Regions from separate parts of the Homo sapiens genome. Here all the other regions are linked to region 1. The links come from fine-mapping of genetic effects on gene expression. A gene starts in region 1. Each other region holds a variant in brackets. All regions are shown on one strand. Distances are from middle to middle.

Region 1 (7,680 bases):
GGCAGGTGATCTTTTCTCTCCAAGGGATAGGAGGACTGTCCTTTGCTTGCCTCTGTTCTTCATGGTTTTAAAAAAATCATTTCCCAAATGATAATGAGATATCATTACATACCTATTAGAATGGCCAAAGTCCGGAACACCAAATGCTAGCAAGGATTTGGATGGAGCAACAGGTACTCTCATTCATTGCTGGTGAGAATGCAAAATGGTCCAGCCACTTTGAAAGAGAATTTGACAGTTCCTTACAGAACTAAACACACTGTTACCATACGATTCAGCCATCATGCTTCTTGATATTTACCCAAAGGAGTCAAACGCTTATGTCCACACAAAAACCTGCACATGGATGTTTATAGCAGCTTTATTCATAATGGCCTGAACTCAGAAGCAACCAAGATGTTCTGCAATAGGTGAGTGGGTAAATAAAGTGTGGTGCATCCAGAAAAGGGAACATTACTCAGTGCCAGAGGAAATGATCAAGCCATGAAGAGACATGGAGGAAACTTAGATGCATATTGCTAAGTGAAAGAAGCCAGTCTGAAAAGGCTACAAACTGTATGGTTCCAATAATACGGCATTTATTCTAGAAAAGGCTAAACTATGGAGACAGCAAAAAGATCAGTGGTTGCCAGGGGCTGGGGGGTGGAGGGAGGGATGAACAGGCAGAGCACAGAGGATTCTTAGGGCAGCGAAACTGTTCTATATGATACTCTAACAGTAGACACGTACCATTGTACACTTGCCCAGACCCATAGAACGTACAAGCCAAGAGTGAGTTCTCACATAAACTATGAACTATGGGGGATAATGATGCAACAACGGAGGTGCCTCAGTTGTAACAAATGTCCCACTGTGCTGGGGATGTTGATAGTGAGGGGGGTTGTGCATGTGTGGGGCAAAGGTTATGGGAAATCTCTGTACCTTCTGCTTACTTTTGCTCTGAACCTAAAAGTGTTCTAAAAGCCTGGCCAACACGGTGAAACCCCATCTCTACTAAAAATACAAAAATTAGCTGGGTGTGGTGTTGGGCGCCTGTAATCCCAGCTACTCGGGAGGCTGAGGCAGGAGAATCACTTGAACCCGAGAGGCAGAGGTTGCAGTGAGCTGAGATCGAGCCATTGCACTCCAGCCTGGGGTACAAGAGCGAGACTTCGTCTCAAAAAAAAAAAAATAAAAATAAAGTCTATTTAAAACAAACAAGCAAACAAACACAGAAACATGGCTTCTCCAGCCCTCACCGTTTGGATGCACGGCACACTCCCTCTGCCTGTGTGCTTTATCTTTCTATTCTGCCACACTGAGGTTTCCCAACTATTGCCCCAGGGGACATTGTCCTCATTTCAATTTGTATTTTTAATAGCACTTCTTTCTGATGACAAAAAGAGTACATGTACAAAGTTTGGAAAATAAAAAGAAAAAGAAGTAGGAGAAAAAAACCCCACCCCGAATTGCTCCACCTGGAGATATCAATCACGTTTTGGATCGCGGCTGGCACGATACTGTTTACATTAAACTGTATTATCCTGTTAACATCACATTTCCCTATCATGAGAAACTTCAAGAACATATTCTTTTGGTAAACATTTCATACATGGCCATACTATAGTTTAGTTAATCATTCGGCATTCAGGTGGTGATATTTAGATGTGTTCAGTTTTGCATTATTATAAATAATGTGATGAACATCTGTGTGGTGAAAGCTTTGCCAAATTTTTGAATTAAATCATAGACTTGGAATTATAGGGTGGAAGAATATGGATATTTTGGTTATTCTTATTCTATTACAAGATTGCTTTCTAGAAATTCTGTTATCTGTTTACACTCTCAGAAGTAGAATGTGAGTTTCTGTCTCTATGGTTTTATTAAGTAACATAATTTAAAAAATAATTTGTTGATTTGATGAAAATGAAAACAGAAATGGTATTTCATTGATTTAATGAACCTTTCTTTTTGTCTGGTAAGTCTGACTTTCGAAAACCTATTTATTAATTATTTGAATATCCAATTTTATAAATTGTCTACTATATATTGGGGTTTTAATGTTTTTCTTATGAATTTGTAAGAGTTCTATTTTATTGCCAAAAAAATTTTCCCTAGTTTCTTACAGTTTAATTTTTATGTCAAACTTATTTTCAAAATGGGAATAACTCTTTTCCTGGTAATTAAAATAACGGGCTGTCATGGTAAAAAAAAATAACATACTATAGAAAATTATACAGAAAAAAGTAAAAATCTACATTCTACCCCTTGAACTTGTACTAACATTTTTAGATCATTTCCTCCCAAACTTTTATCCTATGTTTTTATGGTATTTTCTGAAGTTTAAGAATTCTAATTTTTATGTACCTCAAAGCAAGCATTTTAAAATTTCAATATATTCTCCAGTGCTTTTGTGTTTAGAAATATCTTTTTAATCTAGCGATCTGATAAAAAATCACCTCTAAAAAAACAGAGCTGTGATTCTTTTTTTTTTTGAGATGGAGTTTTGCTCTCGTTGCCTAGGCTGGAGTGCAATGGTGCGATCTCGGCTCACCGCAACCTCTGCCTCCTAGGTTCAAGTGATTCTCCTGCCTCAGTCTTCCGAGTAGCTGGGCTTACAGGCATGCACCACAACGCCCGGCTAATTTTGTATTTTTAGTAGAGACAGGGTTTCTCCATGTTGGTTAGGCTGGTCTCGAACTCCCAACCTCAAGTGATCCGCCTGCCTTGGCCTCCCAAAGTGCTGGGATTATAGGCAAGGCATTATGTCATATTATAGAATATTAAGGAAATTAAGGGGGAAAGAAGTCAGCCTTAATGCCTGGACCCTAACACATCTGCTTCCTTTATGCATTGTTCTTTCAAGACATTGATCATGAGCTTTTAATTTATTTTAATTTATTTTTATATGGTTGCAAGTACAATTTCCTATCTTTTCCTTTCCTTCATAATTATGCCCTAAGCATTATTTTCTTGTTGCTACGTAGTCTCGGTAATGGTTGTTTTAAATGATTCCCAATGGCCCCTCCTGTGGCTGTGCTGTCACAGCTGACCCCATCCCTCTAATGAACACTTCCGTTGCTTCCAATTTTTCTGTCAAGCGATATTTAGAAACACCAGAGTCCAGTGAAGCAGAATCTCCCACTGTTCCCTGGGGGCTGACTGTAATGCAATTTGACTTTGCTCATTTCCTCCTTTCCTCAGAGGAGTGTTGGAAGAAATCACTTTTAGAGAATGGTTAGAAAAACGACCAACAGAAAATGAGGAGGAAGGAGATCATGAGCTGAAAGCATGTTGAGCTTTTAGGAGGAAGCTGCTTTAGAAGCCCAGACTGTGTAGGTTTTGCTTTTGTGACTCACAAATCGGGCATGAGTTTATAATAATTTTGACAGATGCTTTTCACTCATGCAGCGCTTGGTGCTTTTGAGGGCATTGGTGCAGGAAGGCTTGATGCAGAATCTCTGCTTATCATTTGCTGTCTGTGTGACCTACATCAGCGGCGCCTCAGTCTGTCTTCCTGCAGAATAAGAATACAGTCAGCCCTCTGCATCTGTGGGTTGGGCATCCATGGATCCAACCAACTGTGGACTGAAAATATTTGGAAAAATACAATAAAAAGTAAGACTACAACAATAAAATAATATAAATAAAAAACAAGGCCGGGCACGGTGGCTCACACCTATAATCCCAGCACTTTGGGAGGCCAAGGCGGGAGGATCACGAGGTCAGGAGATGGAGACCATCTTGGCCAACATGGTGAAACTCCGTCTCTACTAAAAATACAAAAATTAGCTGGGCATGGTGGCACGTGCCTGTAGTCCCAGCTGCTCGGGGGGCTGAGGCAGGAGAATCACTTGAACCCGGGAGGCAGAGGTTGCAGTGAGCCCAGATTGCGCCACTGCACCCCAGACTGGCGACAGAGTGAGACTCTGTCTAAAAATAAATAAATAAATAAATAAAAAATACAGCGTTAACAACTATTTACATAGTATTTAAATTGTATTAGCTATTACAAGAATCTAGAGATAATTTAAAGTATTTTGGAGGATTTGTGTACGCTATATGCAGATACTGTGTCAATTCATATGAGGGACTTGAGCATCCCTGGATTTTGGTATCCACGGATGTGCTGGAACCAGTCCCCTGGGGGATACCGAGGGACATCATGATAATAGGCCCGGAAGAGGACAGACGAACACACTGGGCCATGGGGCAGCACTGAGCGGTGGTGGAAGAACCCCGAGTAGCCGGAGAAAGAGCAGGAGGGCCTTCCAGGGAAGAGGGAATGGCCTGTGTGAACCCAGGCTGAACCTCTCATTCCTGGGACTCGATTTCTCCATTTGTACAAACTGCTTGGTTTGTGGTCTGCAAGAGCCCTTCCTGTTCCTCCAGGAAGCCTCTCAGGGACCTCTGTCCCTGGCCAGCTCTGCTCCTCTGACCGCTGCGGGTCCTGCAGGCCATAGCCCTGGCTCCTGTGTGTGCACCAGACACGTCTAGGCCTCTTCAGCGGGACCTATCTCTCTGCTCAACTCAATCAACAGTTCTTTAGAAATTTCCAGGGGCAGCAAAGTGCTGTAGCCCCTGACATGTTTTAGGGCTGAATGGGGGTGGGTATCAGCAGACTCAATACGTATTTATTAACTTAAAAGAAGTGTCATTGGTCTATTGGCAAAGCTGGTTAGCAATAACCTTATCTTCTCCAGGAATAATGATCACTAATCATTCCTTCCTGCTGGGGGTAGGAGACAACCCGGCGTATGGTGGTGGAGCACCTGGGAGACAGAGGCAGAGATCTCGTTCCTCGATCCCGGCGCGTTGGTTGTAAAGTAGGAACAGTAATAGCACCTACCTCTAGGGCCACGGAGACCGAATGAAATAATGCCTGTCAAGTCACTTAGTACACAGTAAGCACTCAGTAATGCTAGGTTGTTGTTATTATAATAAATTTTTAGCGAACGGGAAGACCAAGCACCGGTTGGTACTGGGCTAGGCGCCGTAGGCAAAGATGTGGAGATGTCCCGGAGGCGCCTAGGGTATCCGGGCGAAAACCCGAGGGCCGAAGGCTGGGAGGAGGCGGAGCGTCGGGCACCGGGCACCGGGCACCGGGCGGGAGGTGAGCCCCTGGAAAAGGAGGGGGCTCCGGGCGCGTTCTCCCAGCAGCCGCGGCTCCTCTGTTCAGGGCCGCGCCCCCTTCGCCGCACTTTCTCTTTGATTTCGAAAGCACTCCTCTCCTCCACCTAGTCTCCTTTCCTGGGTTGCAGGAGATTACTGCTTGCGGGGAAGACCAAGACGCCAGGCCGGCGGATTAGTCCCCGCCCCGGGGCGGTGCAGCTGGAGCGTCAGGGGAGTCCCGCTCGCCGCAGCCCCAGCGCCGCGCGCGCCCCTCCCTCCTCGCGGACCTGGCGGTGCCGGCGCCCGGAGTGGCCCTTTAAAAGGCAGCTTATTGTCCGGAGGGGGCGGGCGGGGGGCGCCGACCGCGGCCTGAGGCCCGGCCCCTCCCCTCTCCCTCCCTCTGTCCCCGCGTCGCTCGCTGGCTAGCTCGCTGGCTCGCTCGCCCGTCCGGCGCACGCTCCGCCTCCGTCAGTTGGCTCCGCTGTCGGGTGCGCGGCGTGGAGCGGCAGCCGGTCTGGACGCGCGGCCGGGGCTGGGGGCTGGGAGCGCGGCGCGCAAGATCTCCCCGCGCGAGAGCGGCCCCTGCCACCGGGCGAGGCCTGCGCCGCGATGGCAGAGATGGGCAGTAAAGGGGTGACGGCGGGAAAGATCGCCAGCAACGTGCAGAAGAAGCTCACCCGCGCGCAGGAGAAGGTGAGCGAGCCGGAGCCCCAGCAGCCGCGGAGTCCCAGCCGCCGCGGAGCCCCGGCCACCTGTCCCCCTATCCTCCGACCCCGGGGCCTGGTCCTTCGCCAGGATCTGGTGCTGTCACCTCTAGAGGAGCGCTTTCGAGGGGCTTCGAGGTCCCCAGGCTGCGTTCCCCGGCGCTCTGGGTGCCCTCTTAGGTTTGCGTCCTCTGTCTCCCCACACCCGGCCGGGGCAGGACAGGGCCCCGCTTTGCACCTTCGTGGCTCGGCTGCACAGCAGTGGCCGGCCCTGCTCCAGGCTCTTCTCAGGCGCGCGCTCCAGGCTACCCCGCTTTGGAGGCCAAGGGCCGGGAGGCTGGGAGGCCAGGTGGTGACCCTCAGCTCTCCAGGCCCATGCAGGCAACCTAGGCTGGGCCGGCGCTCGGGGCGAGAGGGAGTATGTCCCTCTGCCCCTGGGGACACTATTCCCCCGGACTCCCAAGGCTGCTTCTCGAACCGGCACCCACAGTTCCTTCCTTCCCACTGCTTCTCCACTTTCGTTCTCCGTGGGCCGAAGGAGGGATTGGGTTTCCTTTCCCGAGAGGTGCCTGCGGCCTGGAAGCTCCCGCCCAGCCCGGCCCCACCGGGAGCCCAGGGCTACGCACCCCGCAAGGAGGTGCCCTCGCCCCAGCAGGGGCTTAGCGTTTCCGGCGGCCGGGGAGCGGGTGGCGGCACTGGCTTTGGGAGCCCACGGCCGGGTGGGGAGCTGGCCTGGAGGAGGCGCGTGGAAGGCGCCACAGGAAACCCGACCCCTCCTCGCGGAGAGCTGGAATGGGGGATGGAGCCGGGGCCTCCCAGGGTGCCCAGAGCGTGCAGGAAATGCAGAGATTGAGGGGCGGGGGTCTGCACCCGGTCAGTTGTCTATCCCAAGCCACCTCTGGTTTATTGAATTGGATCACGCCAGCTGCTGACGCCACTTCCCCTGACGACTCCAACTCTGAAATCTGAGATTGCAGAATCTGTGTTTCTGCCAGGGTGGCCCCCCAGTGCCCCGCGGCCAGGCCTGCCCCCTCTCCCACCCGCTGCGCGGCCGCCGGGTGGAGGCGCAGGGACAGGCCGGCCTTCCCCTGCCAGGCCTGGTGGCTGTTTATAAACAATGACTTTTGCTTCTGAGACCCGCGGGCTCCCTAAGGATGCAACCACGTGATTGCTGGGGGATGGGGGAGAGGGGGGCGCCTAGAGCTTCCCCATACCTCCCTCAGAGTCCTACTGCTCATCCCTGTGTTTCCTGGCTAAGGAGGTGGGTGGGTGTGCATTGAAGGAAGGGCCCTCAGCCAAGTCCAGGTTTGCCCAGACCCAGCTCCCCAACCCCCCACCCCAGGGAAGGAGGAGGAGGAGGAGGAGGAGGAGGAGGAGGAGGGATTAAAGCCCCAGGAATAGCTGGCTGGGGGCTGGGAAGACTTCAGGTTGTGGGGTGGGGGGGTGGCAGCACAGATGCAGCCACCCCTGCTCCGGGCTGCCATGACTGGGTAATCCATCTGTGTGCCTGGAGCAGGCAGCCCTGGGCCAGAGCCTGCTTCCTTCCCTAAAGGGCCAGGGAGATGAATGGGAAGGGAGGTTAGCTGAGCTGTGTTCCCTGCCCCCTTCCCACTGGTGTCCCACCCCTTCCTGGCTCCCCAAGGCTCTTGGTGTGTCTCCTTTGCCCTGGTTGTCTTTTCTCTGCAGCAGCATCTTTGATGTCATTCTCGGGGCAGTAGGCAAGGGCTGTGTCCCCTCCAAGGAGGTGGTGATGTATCACTGAGCTCCTGAGACACCATCCCTCTCTCTTGAGCCCCTGTTCTGTGGCCACGGGCAGTTGGCTGACAGTTGGTCAGCTAGGCATGCTGGTCTTGGCCAACAGCTGACCTTGCCCATGCCGGGCTTC
Region 2 (7,680 bases), 130 kb before region 1:
CTTTTTGAGACAGAGTCTCACTCTATCATCTAGGCTGGAGTGGCACAATCTTGGTTCACTACAACCTCTCCTTCCTGGGCTCAAGCAATTCTCCTGCCTCAGCCTCCTGAGTAGCTGCGATTACAGGCGCTGCACCACGCCTGGCTAATTTTTGCATTTTTAGTAGAGACAGGTTTCACCATGTTGGTCAGGCTGGTCTCGAACTCCTGACCTCAAGTGATCTGCCTACCTTGGCCTCCCAAAGTGCTGGGATTGCAAGCTTAAGCCACCACCCCTGGCCAAATTATGTTTTTTTGTTTGCCTTTTTAGTGGCTGCCCTTGAGATTGCAATAAACATTTACAACGAATCCAAGTCTTCTTTCAAATAATACTCTACCCCTTCACAGGTAGTGCAAGTACCTAACCACTGAGTATTCATAATTCTTCTCTTTCATATCTTAATAACATTGCTGTCATTTTCACTTATCCATAAGCTACAATCATTGGATACTTTGTAGCTTTTTGTTTTGAACAAACTGTTATGTTATATCAATTGAGAATAAGAAAAATAAGAGATTTTACTTTATCTTCATGAGTTCCTTCTGTAATACTCATTATTTATGTAGATCTGAGTTTCTGATTGTATTAGTCCATTTTCATACTGCTATAAAGAAGTGCCCAACACTGGGTAATTTATAAAGGAAAGAGGTTTAATTGACTCACAATTCAGCATGGCTGGGGAGGCATCAGGAAACTGATAATCATGGCAGAAGGCAAAGGGGGAAGCAAGGCACCTTCTTCACAAGGCGTCCGGAAGTAGAAGTGCCAAGCAAAGGGGGAAGAACTCTATAAAACCATCAGATCTCGTGAGAACTCACTCACTGTCATGAGAACAACATGGGGGAAACAGCCCCTATGATTCAATTATCTCCATCCGGTCTTTCCCTTGACATGTAGGGATTATGGGGATTACAATTCACGATGAGATTTGAGTAGGGGGACACAAAGCCTAATCATATCATTTTGCCCCTGGCCCCTCCCAAATCTCATGTCCCTTTCATATTTCAAAACCAATCATGCCTTCCAAACAGTCCTCCAAAGTCTTTGTTCATTCTAGGATTAACCCAAAAGTCCAAGTTCAAAGTCTCATCTAAGACAAGGGAAGTCCCTTCCGCTTATGAGCCTGTAAAGTCAAAAGCAAATTAGGTACTTCCTAGACACAATGGGGGTACAGGCATTGGGTAAATACACCCATTTCAAATAGGAGACATTGGCCAAAACAAAAGGATGACAGGCCCCATGCAGGCCTGAAATCCAGCAGGACAGTCAAACCTTAAAGCTCTGAAATGACCTCCTTTGACTCCATGTTTCACATCCAGATCATGCTGATGAAACAGGCCTCCTCTCAGCTGCTTTCATGGGCTGGCATGGAGTGTCTGTGGCTTTTCTGGGTACATGGTGCAAGCAGTCAGTGGACCTACCATCCTGGGGTCTGGAGGGCAGTGGCCCTGTTCTCACAGCTCCACTAGGCAGTGCCCCAGTGGGGACTCTGTCAGGGCTCTGACCCTATATTTCCCTTTTGCACTGCCCTAGCAGAGGTTCTCTATGAAGGCCTTGCCCCTGCAGCAAACTTCTGCCTGGTCATCCAGGCATTTCCATACATCCTCTAAAATCTAGGTGGAGGCTCCCAAACCTCAATTTTGTTTTTGTTTTTGAGACAGAGTCTCACTCTGTTGCCCAGGCTGGAGTGCAGTGGTGCAATCTTGGCTCACTGCAACCTCCACTTCCCAGGTTCAAGTGATTCTCCCATCTCAGCCTCCCAAGTAGCTGGGACTACAGGCACACACCATCATACCCAGCTAATTTTTGTATTTTTAGTAGAGACGGAGTTTCACTATGTTTGCCAGGCTGGTCTCGAACTTTTGACCTTATGTGATCCATCCCCCTTGGCCTCCCAAAGTGCTGGGATTACAGGCATGAGCCACTGTGCCTGGCCCCAAACCTCAATTCTTGACTTCTGTGCACCTGCAGGCCCGACAACACATGTAAGCCATCAAGGCCTGGGGCTTGCATCCTGTGAAGCCATGGCCCGAGCTGTGCCTTGGCCCTTTTTAGCCACAGCTGGGATGCAGGGCACCAACTCCCAGGACTGCATAAAGCAACAAGACCCTGGGCCCAGCCCATGAAGCCATTTTTTCCTTCTAGGCCTCTAGGCCTGTGATGGGAGGAGCTGCTGTGAACACCTCTGACATGTCCTGGAGACATTTTCCCCATTGTCTTGGTTATTAACATTTGGCTCCTTGTCACTTATGCATACTTCTGAAGCCGGTTTGAATTTCTCCTCAGAAAATGGGTTTTTCTTTTCTATTGCATCATCAGGCTGCAAATTATCCAAACGTGTATGCTCTGCTTCTCTTTCAAACATGAAGTTCCAATTCCAAACCATCTCTTTGGGAATGCATAAAATCAAACACTTTTAACAGCACCCAGGTCACCTCTTGAATACTTTGCTGCTTAGAAATTTCTTCCATTGGATACCTTAAATCATCTCTCTCAAGTTCAAAATTCCACAGATCTCCAGGCCAGGGGCAAAATGCCACCAGTCTCTTTGCTAAAGCATAGCAAGAGTCACCTTTATTCTAGTTCCCAACAAGTTCCTCATCTCCATCTGAGACCACCTCAGGCTGGACTTCATTGTCCATATCACTATCAGCATTTTGGTCAAAGCTATTTAATAAATCTCTAGGAAGTTTTAAAGTTTCCCACATCCTTCTGTCATCTTCTGAGCCCTCTTAACTGTTCCAACCTCTGCCTGTTACCCAGTTCCAAAGTTGCTTCCACATTTTCAGTATCTTTATAGCAGCACCCCACTTCTGGTAACAATTTACTGTATTAGTCCGTTTTTATACTGCTATAAAGAACTGCCTAAGACTGGGTAATTTATAAAGGAAAGAGGTTTAATTGACTCACAGTTCAGCACGATTGGGGAGGCTTCAGGAAACTTACAATCATGGCAGAAGGCAAAGGGGAAGCAAGGTGCCTTCTTCACAAGGAGGCAGAAAGGAGAAGTGCTGAGCAAAGGGGGAAGAGCCCCTTATAAAATTATCAGCTCATGAGAATTCACTATCATGAGAATAGCATGGGGGAAACTGCCCCCATGATTCATTTATTTCCATCTGGTCTCTCCCTTGACATGAGGAGATAATGGGGCTTACAATTCGAGATGAGATTTGGGCGGGGATACAAAGTCTAACCATATCACTGATGTATACTATTTTCTTTCTTTCTGAGGAATTTCAACATTTCTTGCAAGGTATGTCAATTGTGACAAGTTTTCTCAATTTTGTTTGTCTGTGAAAGTCTTTATTTCTCCTTTACTTTTCAAGGATAATATTTCTGGGTATAGGATTCTGGTGGTGGTGTTTGTTGTTGTTTCTGTCAACACTTAAAATATTTTGCTCCAAGCTCTTCTTACTTGCGTGGCCTATGAAGAGAACTCTGATTAATTATTATACTTGCTCCTCATAGGTACAGTGTTTTCTTCCCTTTGACTTAATTCAAAATTGTCTCTTTGTCTTTGATTATCTGTGGTTTGAATATGCTATATCTAGGTGTAAATTTTTTTGGTATTTATCCTCTTTGATTTCCTGAGCTTCTGAATCTGGGGTTTGGTGTCTGTCATTCATTTTGGAAAATTCTCAGTCATTATTACTTCAAATATTTTTTCTGTTTCTTTTTTTTCTTGTTTTGATATTCATTATGCATATGTCACACCATTTAAAATTGTCCCACAGTTATTGGATGTTCTGTTCTGCTTTTTAAAATTATTTTTTCTCTTACCATTTAGTTTTTGAAGTTTCTATTGACATGTCTTCAAGCTCAGTGATTCTTTCTTTGGCTGTGTCCAGTCTATTTTTTTTTTTTTT[A/TTTA]ACTTTTTTTGAGATGGAATCCTGCTCTGTCACCCAGGCTAGAGTGCAATAGCATGATCACAGCTCACTGCAACATCTGCCTCCCAGGTTCAAGTGATTCTCCTGCCTCAGCCTCCTGAGTAGCTGGGATTACAGGCATGTGCCACCATGTCCAGCTTACGTTTGTATTTTTAGTAGAGGCAGGGTTTCACTATGTTGGCCAGGCTGGTCTCAAACTCCTGACCTCAGGTGATCTGGCCACCACAGCCTCCCAAGGTGCTGGGATTACAGACATGAGCCACTGCGCCCGGCCATGTGTCCAGTCTATTTAAAAGCCCATCAAATGCATTATTTCCATGACAGTGTTCTTTATTTCTAGCGTTTCTTTCCTTTTGATTCTTCCTTATTGTTTCCATCACTATGCTTGCAGTATCCATCTCTCATTGCATATGGTTCATTTTTTCTATTAGAGCTCTTAGCATATTAATTATAGTGTTTTTAAATTCACAGTCTGATAATCCCAACATCTTTGCCACATCTGAATCTTGTTTTGATGGTTACCTTGTTTCTTTAAAACATTTTTTGTCTTATAGGATGCCTTGTAATTTTTTGTTGGAAGCCAGACATTAGGTACTGAGAAAAAGAACCTAGGCAAATAGGCCTTTGGTATGATGCTTTATGTGTATTTGACAAAGAGTTAAGCTGTTTTGATTATTTGATGTACCTGTATGTTTCAGAGATATTAAAAGTTCCTCTAATGTTAGTTTTGTCTCCTCTGTTGCACAGAAGCCCTGTTGATGTGCTGGTAAGATGTGGGGGCAGAACAAACCTTCTCTAGTTCTTTGATTAAATCTCAGTCTTTTAATGAGCCTGTGTTCCTGTGCTGTGACCTTCACAAGTACTTCTCAGTGTCTCCCCCTTTGTTGGGACAGGATAGCTAGAAGGGACTAGACTAGGATATTTCCCTTTCCCCAGGACAATTAGCGTTAGTAAAACCTCAGTTAAGCTCTGGTAAACTCATTTCTCTTGAGGGCAGGCTTTATTAACAATAGAATGCCCTGGCTTATTTCACCCTCCCCACTGACAGAAATACCAAGGGATTTTTCTCTTCACCTTGATGACCTGGTAAGCCTTCTGGAAGTAAAACTCAGACAAGTGTTGGGGCCCCCCTAAGACTGGGCTCCCTGGAGTTTTTAACTCTCAAGCAGTCCAAACAGAGCCTCTAGCAATTCAGCAATTGCAGTTTAAGTTTTCCTACCCTGGTACTGGTTCCCATAAAGGTTTCTGCTCTTGAGCTTCCACTCAAGTAGTGAATCAAGTCATGATTCTTTGTATCTGCCATCTGTCTCTCCAATTTGTAAGACAGTAATTTACCCTATGACCTCAATTATCTGCAGGATCTAAGAAGAGCAGTTGATTTTCAGCTTGTCAAACTTCTTTCTTGTTGTTAGGGTGGGAATGACGACTCCCAAACTTTTTACACGCCAGACTGAAAACTGGAAGTCTGGTTGTCTTTCTTTCTTTCTTTCTTCTCCTTCCTTCCTTCCTTCCTTTCTTCCTTCCTTCCTTCCTTCCTCTCTTTCTCCTTCCTTTCTTCCTTCCTTCCTCCCGCCCTCCTTTCTTTCTTTGTTCCTTCCTTCCTTCCTTCCTTCCTTCCTTCCTTCCTTCTTTCTTTCTTTCTTTCTTTTTTTCTTTCTTTCTTTCTTTTTCTTTCTTTCTTTTTTCTCTCTCTCTCTCGGAGTCTTGCATTGTCGCCCCAGCTGGAGTGTCATGGCACAATCTCAGCTCACTGCAACCTCTGCCTCCCGGGTTCAAGTGATTCTCCTGCCTCAGCCTCCTGAGTAGTTGGGATTACAGGCACGCACCACCATGCCCTGCTAATTTTCTTTTCTTTTTTTTTTTTTTTAGTGGAGACAAGGTTTCACTATGTTGGCTAGTTTGGTCTCGAACTCCTGACCTCGTGATCCGCCAGCCTCGGCCTCCCAAAGTGCTGGGATTGCAGGCATGAAGCACTGTACCTGGCCCAGAAGCACAAAAGTTTTAAATTGTAGTGAGCTCCAACTTACCTACTTTTTCTTTTCTTTCTTTCCTTTTTTTTTTTTTTTTTGAGACAGAGTCTTGCTCTGTCGTCCAGGCTGGAGTGCAGTGGTGCGATCTCAGCTCACTGCAACATCTGCCTCCTGGGTTCAAGCAATTCTTGTGCCTCAGCCTCTCAAGTAGCTGGGATTGCAGGCACCCGCCACCACGCCCGGCTAATTTTTGTATTTTTAGTAGAGATGGTGTTTCGCCATGTTGGCCAGACTGGTCTTGAACTCCTGACCTCAAGTGATCCACTCGCCTTGGCCTCCCAAATTGTTGGGATGACAGGCGTGAGCCACTGCGCCTACCTAGCCTTTCTTTTCTTGTACTTGCATTAAGTGTCTTACCTAAGAAACCATTGTGTAATCCAAGGTCACAAACATTTACTCTTACATTTTCTTCTAAGGATTTTATAGTTTTGTCTCTTATATTTAGGCCTTTGGTCTATTTTGAGTTAATTTTTATATATGGTATGAGGTAGAAGCCCAGCTTCATTCTTTTGCATGTGGATATCCAGTCGTCCCAGTACCATTTGTTGAAAAGACTATTCTTTCTCCATTTAACTGTGTTGGCATCTTTGTCAAAAATGAAATTGGGCCAGGTGTGGTGGCTTACACCTGTAATCTTAGCACTTTGGGAGGCCAAGACGGGAGGATCGCTTGAGGCTAGGAGTTTGAGACCAGCCTGGTCAACATAGCAAGACCTCATCTCTAAAAAGTAAGTAAGTAAATAAGTAAATAAATAAATAAAAGAAATTGACCATAAAAGAAATTGATCATAGATCTATGGGGTTATTTCTGGACTCTCAATTCTATTCCTCTGATGTAGATGTCTATCTGCATGCCAGTACCATGTCATCTGGAGTATTGTAGCTATGACGCAAGTTTTAGTAAGTTTTGAAATGAGGATGTATGAGTCCTTCAACTTTGTTCTTCCTTTTTTTTTGTTTTGTGACGGAGTCTCACACTGTTGCCCAGGCTAGAGTGCAGTGGCGCGATCTCGGCTCAAGGGCTCACTGCAATTCTGCCTCCTGGGTTCACGCCATTTTCCTGCCCCAGCCTCCCAAGTAGCTGGGACTACAGGCGCCCACCAACACACCCGGCTAATTTTTTGTATTTTCTTTTTTAGTAGAGACGGAGTCTCACTGTGTTAGCCAGGATGGTCTCAATCTCCTGACCTCGTGATCCGCCTGCCTCGGCCTCCCAAAGTGTTGGGATTACAGGCGTGAGCCACCACGCCCGGCCTTGTTCTTCCTTTTCAAGAATGTTTTTGGCTATTCTGGGTCCCTCGCATTGCCATACATATTTTATAATCAAATTGCCAATTACTGCAAAAAGGGCAGCTGGAATTTTGATAGGGATTACATTGTAAGAGTATATCAATTTGAGGAGCATTAGTAAGATTAGTAAGATTAGGTCTCCCAATTCATGTACTAAATGAGATGTCTTTCCATTAATGTAGGTCTTAAATATTTCTTTCAGCAATGTTTCATGGCTTTCAAAGTCTAAGTCTTGTACTTCTTTTGTTAAATTTATTCTTAAGTAAGTGTGTTATTTTTTTGATGCTATTGTAAGTGAAGTTATTTTCTTCATTTCATTTCCAGATTGTTCGTTGCTAGTAGGTAGAGATACAACCAGCATTGTTTATTGACCATGTGTCCTGCAGCTTTGCTGAACTTGTTTATTAGCTCTAATAGCATTTTATGTGTGTTTGTGGG
Region 3 (5,000 bases), 30 kb after region 1:
GCCCAGCCGGGTGAGCCCGAAGACCCGGCCCTCCTCACTGTGGCGGCTAGAGCTCCTGGCCCCTCCTGACTGGACGGTGTCAGGCTGTGTCCTGATTTGTTTGTGCTCACCTGCCATCTGTCACATAAGGACACTTCCCTTCTGAGGAGGCGGCCCTGGTGACTTGAAGTGCGTGCATGGTGGGTGGGTGCTGTACGTGGTGAGCTGCTCCTGGCTCAAACAAGACAGGCCTGGGCACCCTTCCTCCTTCTGGGTTCGGTGGCCGTGCACTGCCTGTGCCCCATGACTCACGCTGTGGGTCAGGGCCTTGCCTGCCATGCGGGGGCTGTTGGAGGGTGGCAGGACTCCCTGTACCCACAGGGAGCGGCTGACGCCAGGGCCTTCTGCCCTCTCACTGGGCCATGACAAAGGCCTTGGCGGAGGGCTGGGGAGGGGCACCCACCCACGGGATGCTCCCACTGAGCCCCTGTGGACCCGGGTGCCGGAGGCATGGCGTCAACTCAGTGAACCACCCAGCCTTTCTAGGGAGGAGCCTTGGGAGGGTTTCCTTCCACAGCCGAGGCCCAGCGAGGCTGAACCCTGTGGATGATTGCAGGAGGAGGTTCTGGAGCTGGCCACGGGTTCACACTTTGTCATTCCTGCCACCTGCCCCCCCTCCCTGCCCTGCCCTGGGGTGTCCCCTCCAAGGCACTTCAGCTCCACTCACATCTGGCCTTGGGTTGAGGACATGGTGAGAGGAAGCTCTGATAGGAGGTGATTGGGTGTGGCACTGATAAAGCTCCTGGGACTGTTGGCTCTGTGGCTGCCTCTGCCGCCTGGGCCTCTGTGTGTCTCGTCCGCCGCCAAGTTTTCAAAGGCTCCCCTTTGTTTATCACAGAGTGAGTGTGCGTGATAAGTGTGTGATGAGTGTAGGTGGAACTGATTGTCTAAGGGGCCCTCACCCAGTAACCCTGGACAGAGTGCAAATCCTGGCCTGTGCCGCCAGACCCTCCTCCTCACCCAACTCCTGCTCATCCTTCAAAACCCAGCACAACTGTCCTGCCCAGCTTTCCTTAGTCGCTGCTGGGCCAGCCCCTCCTGGACACCTGGAGTCCCCTGTGTCCCTCAGTGGTCTGCCTGTGAGCTCGGCACAGGGGAGGCCCCACTAACCAAGTGTGGAACGGATGGGGTGGGAGATCTGTGTCCCAGGGCTCACGGCCTTGTCCCAGCTCCTGTTCTGGGGCAGGGGGTGCCCAGATTGTTTTTCCCTGTGGTAGCCACACCAGGAGCTCCTTGAGGATGGGGACCCCAGGCCACTTGCCTGCGTTCCCTCATGGATGAAATGGGGGTAGGTGCAGTGAGGATGGCATGTGGCCAAGGCCAGCCTCGCCCATGGGTCTTCCCTGGGCCTCGGCCATGCTGTGGCCTTGTTATTCCTCCCATTTCCAAGGCGGGGGCACTGGAGCACTGAGAGCTTCAGCAGCCTGAGGTCTCGCAGAGTGGGGAGACTGGCTCAGCCTCAGGCTTGCTGTCACCCCTCAGGGCTGAGGGCTTTCTGTACATTACCCTTCCATTTTGTCTGGGAGGAGCCTGAGGCTGAGAGGTGGGTTGTTTTGTTTAGGGTCATGTCTCTGCCCTCAAAGCCCACAGCTCAGATGAGCAGCAGCCGCTGAGAATATCTTGTGTGTCTGTCCTGTGCTTAGCCCTGTGTGGGTGTTGGGGACACAGAGATGACTGGAACAGTGTCCCTGACCTCAAGCTGTTCCTTCAGGGTGAGGGTGTGAGGCACACAGGCACATCACATAGCAGTGAGGAAAGCTCTAAGTGGTACAGAGTGTTTTGAGGAAAGGAGAGATCAGGGACAGTTCACAGTGATGTCACCTGAGTGAGGTTTTGAAGGATGCATAGGAGTTTGCCATGTGCAGGTAGAGTGTGCGCGTCTGTGACTTCTGTCTCACATCTTGGGATGCCGTCAGCCTGGACCCGGTGTGAGGGCTGGCGGTGTCAGTCAGGCCCATCCCCCACCTGTGTGAAGGCTGCTCTGAAGGCCTTTTAGGGATTTGCCATTTCTTGAATATCATGGGCCAGGTACTGCTCTGCACTTTATAGACATGATCTTTGTAATCCTTGAGGAGGGTGCCAGTGTTCACTTCATTTTGTAGATTGAGGCTCAGAGAGTAGCTGTCCCTTTTCCCAAGGGTCTTCTCACTGCTGCGTGGAGTCTCACCTGGGCTGGTGTCTCGTTCTCAAGGCTGGAAGATCTCCCCAGTTCTCCAGCTGTCTGTGCAGAGCACACAGCAGTGTTTGGGAACTGGGTCGAGTGTGTGTCTGTCTCTGTACACCTCAGGAGCCCTGGTGGCCAGTGTGGGTGGGGAAGACTGGGGACCTTTTGCTGGCTGAGTGTGTCTGTCTTCCTGGGGAGAGGGAGGGCAGGGCGTGGAAGGGGCATCCTTCCTGGTGCTCTTGCCTTGGGAGCTGGGCAGTCCCTGCCCTGTTTCTGAGAGCTTCTGGCTCTCTCTGGTGGCTCTGGTAGACTTCTGGGAGTTCTTTTCTATGTGGTGGTCTATTCCTCTCTTTGGAGGGGGTGGGGCTGTGGGGTGGGTGCCTGAGCAGAGGGGCTGAGTCACCTACCCAAGCTCTTTGCAGAGCCGGGTGAGG[A/T]ACCTCCCCAGCTCAGCCCACTTTCTGGGGGGTCCCTTCTGGATGTGGCTGCCAGGGAGGGGCAGCAGTGGGGAGCCTGCAAGTTGTGCAGTGTACATTTTCTTGCTCATGTGGGGGTTTTGTTTTGGTTTTTCTCTCATCCCTGTGTCAGCCCTTGGCATCCAGCTGCAGTTGCCCAAGGGGCTGTGTCCCGACCGCTGTAGCACAACATCATCGGTGGCTGCCTCCCGGTGCCCACCTGCCCCCTGCTGCCACTCTCACTTTCCCACTCCATCCTCTGTGACCTCTAGTCACCTTGAGCAATTCAAAACTCCCCAGTAAGATGCTCCATCTTTCTGGTCTCCTTACCTTTGTTGCAACCTCTCCCCTCTGTCTGAGCTGCCACCCACTCCAGGAAGTCTCACTGACTGCCCAGGCTAGAAGAGATCTCTACCCCCAGGGTCCCACAGCCTTAAGTGTTCCCCCATGTCAGGACAGAGACCCACATCTGATTCCTCTCTGCTGTACCGGCCAAGGTGCCCAAGGCCAGGCACAGAGCAAGTGCTTGGTGAGAGATGGCCAAGAGCAGCTGGCCTTGCCAAGGCTTCTGGGCCTGGCTGGGGGGGGAAGTGCAGCAGGGCAGCACAGGACCTGCAAGGGCCGGCAGGGTGGGAAGGGTCCTGGCTGTGTCCTGGTACCAGGCATCCGTTGGTCCAGGACCGTGGCCTGGGCCCTGGGCCCCAAAGCTGATGTTCCTGGCAGCATGGGCTGGCTCCGGGTCTTGGAAGGGAGGGATGTCTGCAGACCTACTGGCCTCAGCAGATGCTGGGCTGGCCCTTTGCTCCTGGGGCTCCCCACCGCTCCTGGGCCCACCTTTTTCTCCCTTTGCTTTCCACTCCCATCCCCTACCCCCGTTTCCTTCTCATTCTTGTGAGGTCTTGCCCACTGCCTGGGAGAGGCCTCTGCTGAGACATCAGTGTTGGCCTTTCTGCCGCCCTGATGGAGGTGCCTCTTTGGCTGCAGACGGGTGTGTCCCGCCGCCACCCTGGTCTTCCCCTCTGCTCTCCTGCAAACCCATCTGGCACTCCTCATCCCTTTTCTGTGCCCCAGCTCTTTGTCTTTTTCTTCTCCTGCTCTTTCCTACCGTGCCCCACCACCGCTCCTTGCCTCTGTATTTTGTCTCCCTGCTCCCACCTCTCTCTCCGTCATGTGGAGCTCTGGGATTGGAGGAGCAGGGCCCAGAGAGGGAAGTCTGGGAGAGCGTGATGGTCAGCATATGTTCTCAGGGTCCTGGCCAGCGCCCTCCTTTCCTAGAGCTTTCCCCTCTCCTGGTGTGGCTCCTCTTCTCTGCCCTTGCCCACCCATCCTTCATCTCCCCCTGCCACTCATCGTGGGGGGTTGAGGGGGAGTCCACCTCTGAGACTCATGGTTGGGAGCAGAGCTGTGAGCTCATGTGTGTGCCCTTGTGTGTTTTGTGTGTGTGTGTGTGTGTGTGGGCTGTGCAGAGCAGAGTGCCTGGGGCAGGTCACATCTAAAAACCCAGTCAGATCAGAAGCAGACTCTGCGTGGCCCCCGGCAGCTCCTGGCCACCGCTCGCTGCCCTCCTTGTTCCGGGATGGCTCCTGCCGGTTCAGGGCCTGCTCTGCTGTTGCCTGTGGCATTCATGGGCCTGGGCCCAGGGAATAGAGTCATGCGGAGAAGTGAGGCTGCTCCTGCTTGGCCCCTCCCCTGCGTGGCTCACTTTTCAGCTTCCAGGGTGGGGGCGGAGCACCCAGGGGTGCAGTGTGAGATCAGCTAGGAGGGTGCCCGATCCTTCTTGCCATCTTTGAAGCCTCCCTCCTCCTGGCTGTGGTCACTACGTCAAGCCTGTCCTAAGCTCCATTTTTGGCCTATTGTCGAGCCCTGGGTAGAGGGTGGGGAGGCCTGAAAACCTGATGGACCCAGCCATGCCCTGGGATTGCAGCCCTGGGTGGGCACCCTGGGCTGGGTGATGTTGGCTAGAGACTTCCCAGCCCCTGGTCTGTGCTGTTGGTGACTGAGCACTCTTGGTTTGACCACTCTCCTTTCCAAGGTAACACTCTCCCCTTCTCTCTTGGCTTCGGCAGGTTCTCCAGAAGCTGGGGAAGGCAGATGAGACCAAGGATGAGCAGTTTGAGCAGTGCGTCCAGAATTTCAACAAGCAGCTGGTGAGTGTGGGTGGCCCTTGGCCTTAGGGAGTTTGTGAAAATTCGGCTGCCAGGTGAAAAATGGCACGAGCTGAATTTGTGGAGTACGAGAGCTTGGAGGAGGGTAATCAGTGTGGGCTGACAAGATCATGTAAGACTTCCTAGAGGAGGGAGCACTGGCAATGCATGCTGGGAAGGAAGAGGGATGGGGTATGTATG

Direction of the effects. Positions count from the first base shown, and alleles are read on the strand shown. Sizes are in standard deviations (SD) of each study's normalised expression. Not every link is listed here.
With allele A in place of TTTA in region 2, the expression in skeletal muscle of the gene that starts at base 5,490 in region 1 is higher (large effect, 0.88 SD a copy in FUSION).

What was found. PIP is the estimated chance that this variant, and not a neighbour inherited with it, causes the effect.
Region 2: its variant is the best candidate, but not a certain one, in a credible set for the expression of BIN1 in skeletal muscle (FUSION, PIP 0.65).
Region 3: its variant is the best candidate, but not a certain one, in a credible set for the expression of BIN1 in whole blood (TOPMed, PIP 0.61).

The regions. Positions count from the first base shown.
Region 1 is chr2:127,104,964-127,112,643 of GRCh38, reverse strand. BIN1 (bridging integrator 1) reads left to right here and starts at 5,490. Exons shown (of 19, transcript NM_139343.3): 1 at 5,490-5,784. The coding sequence starts at 5,701. LOC105373605 (a long non-coding RNA gene) reads right to left here and starts at 5,499. Exons shown (of 4, transcript XR_923311.4): 1 at 4,829-5,499. RefSeq lists silencers at 5,363-5,422, 5,257-5,551, 5,433-5,642.
Region 2 is chr2:127,233,112-127,240,791 of GRCh38, reverse strand. No RefSeq gene overlaps it. Among named protein-coding and RNA genes, the nearest start is that of CYP27C1, 17 kb to the right of the region's middle. The variant A/TTTA (reference allele first, on the strand shown) is at 3,906.
Region 3 is chr2:127,076,428-127,081,427 of GRCh38, reverse strand. It overlaps BIN1 (bridging integrator 1), which reads left to right. Exons shown (of 19, transcript NM_139343.3): 2 at 4,722-4,802. Among named protein-coding and RNA genes, the nearest start is that of BIN1, 28 kb to the left of the region's middle. RefSeq lists an enhancer at 194-423. The variant A/T (reference allele first, on the strand shown) is at 2,638.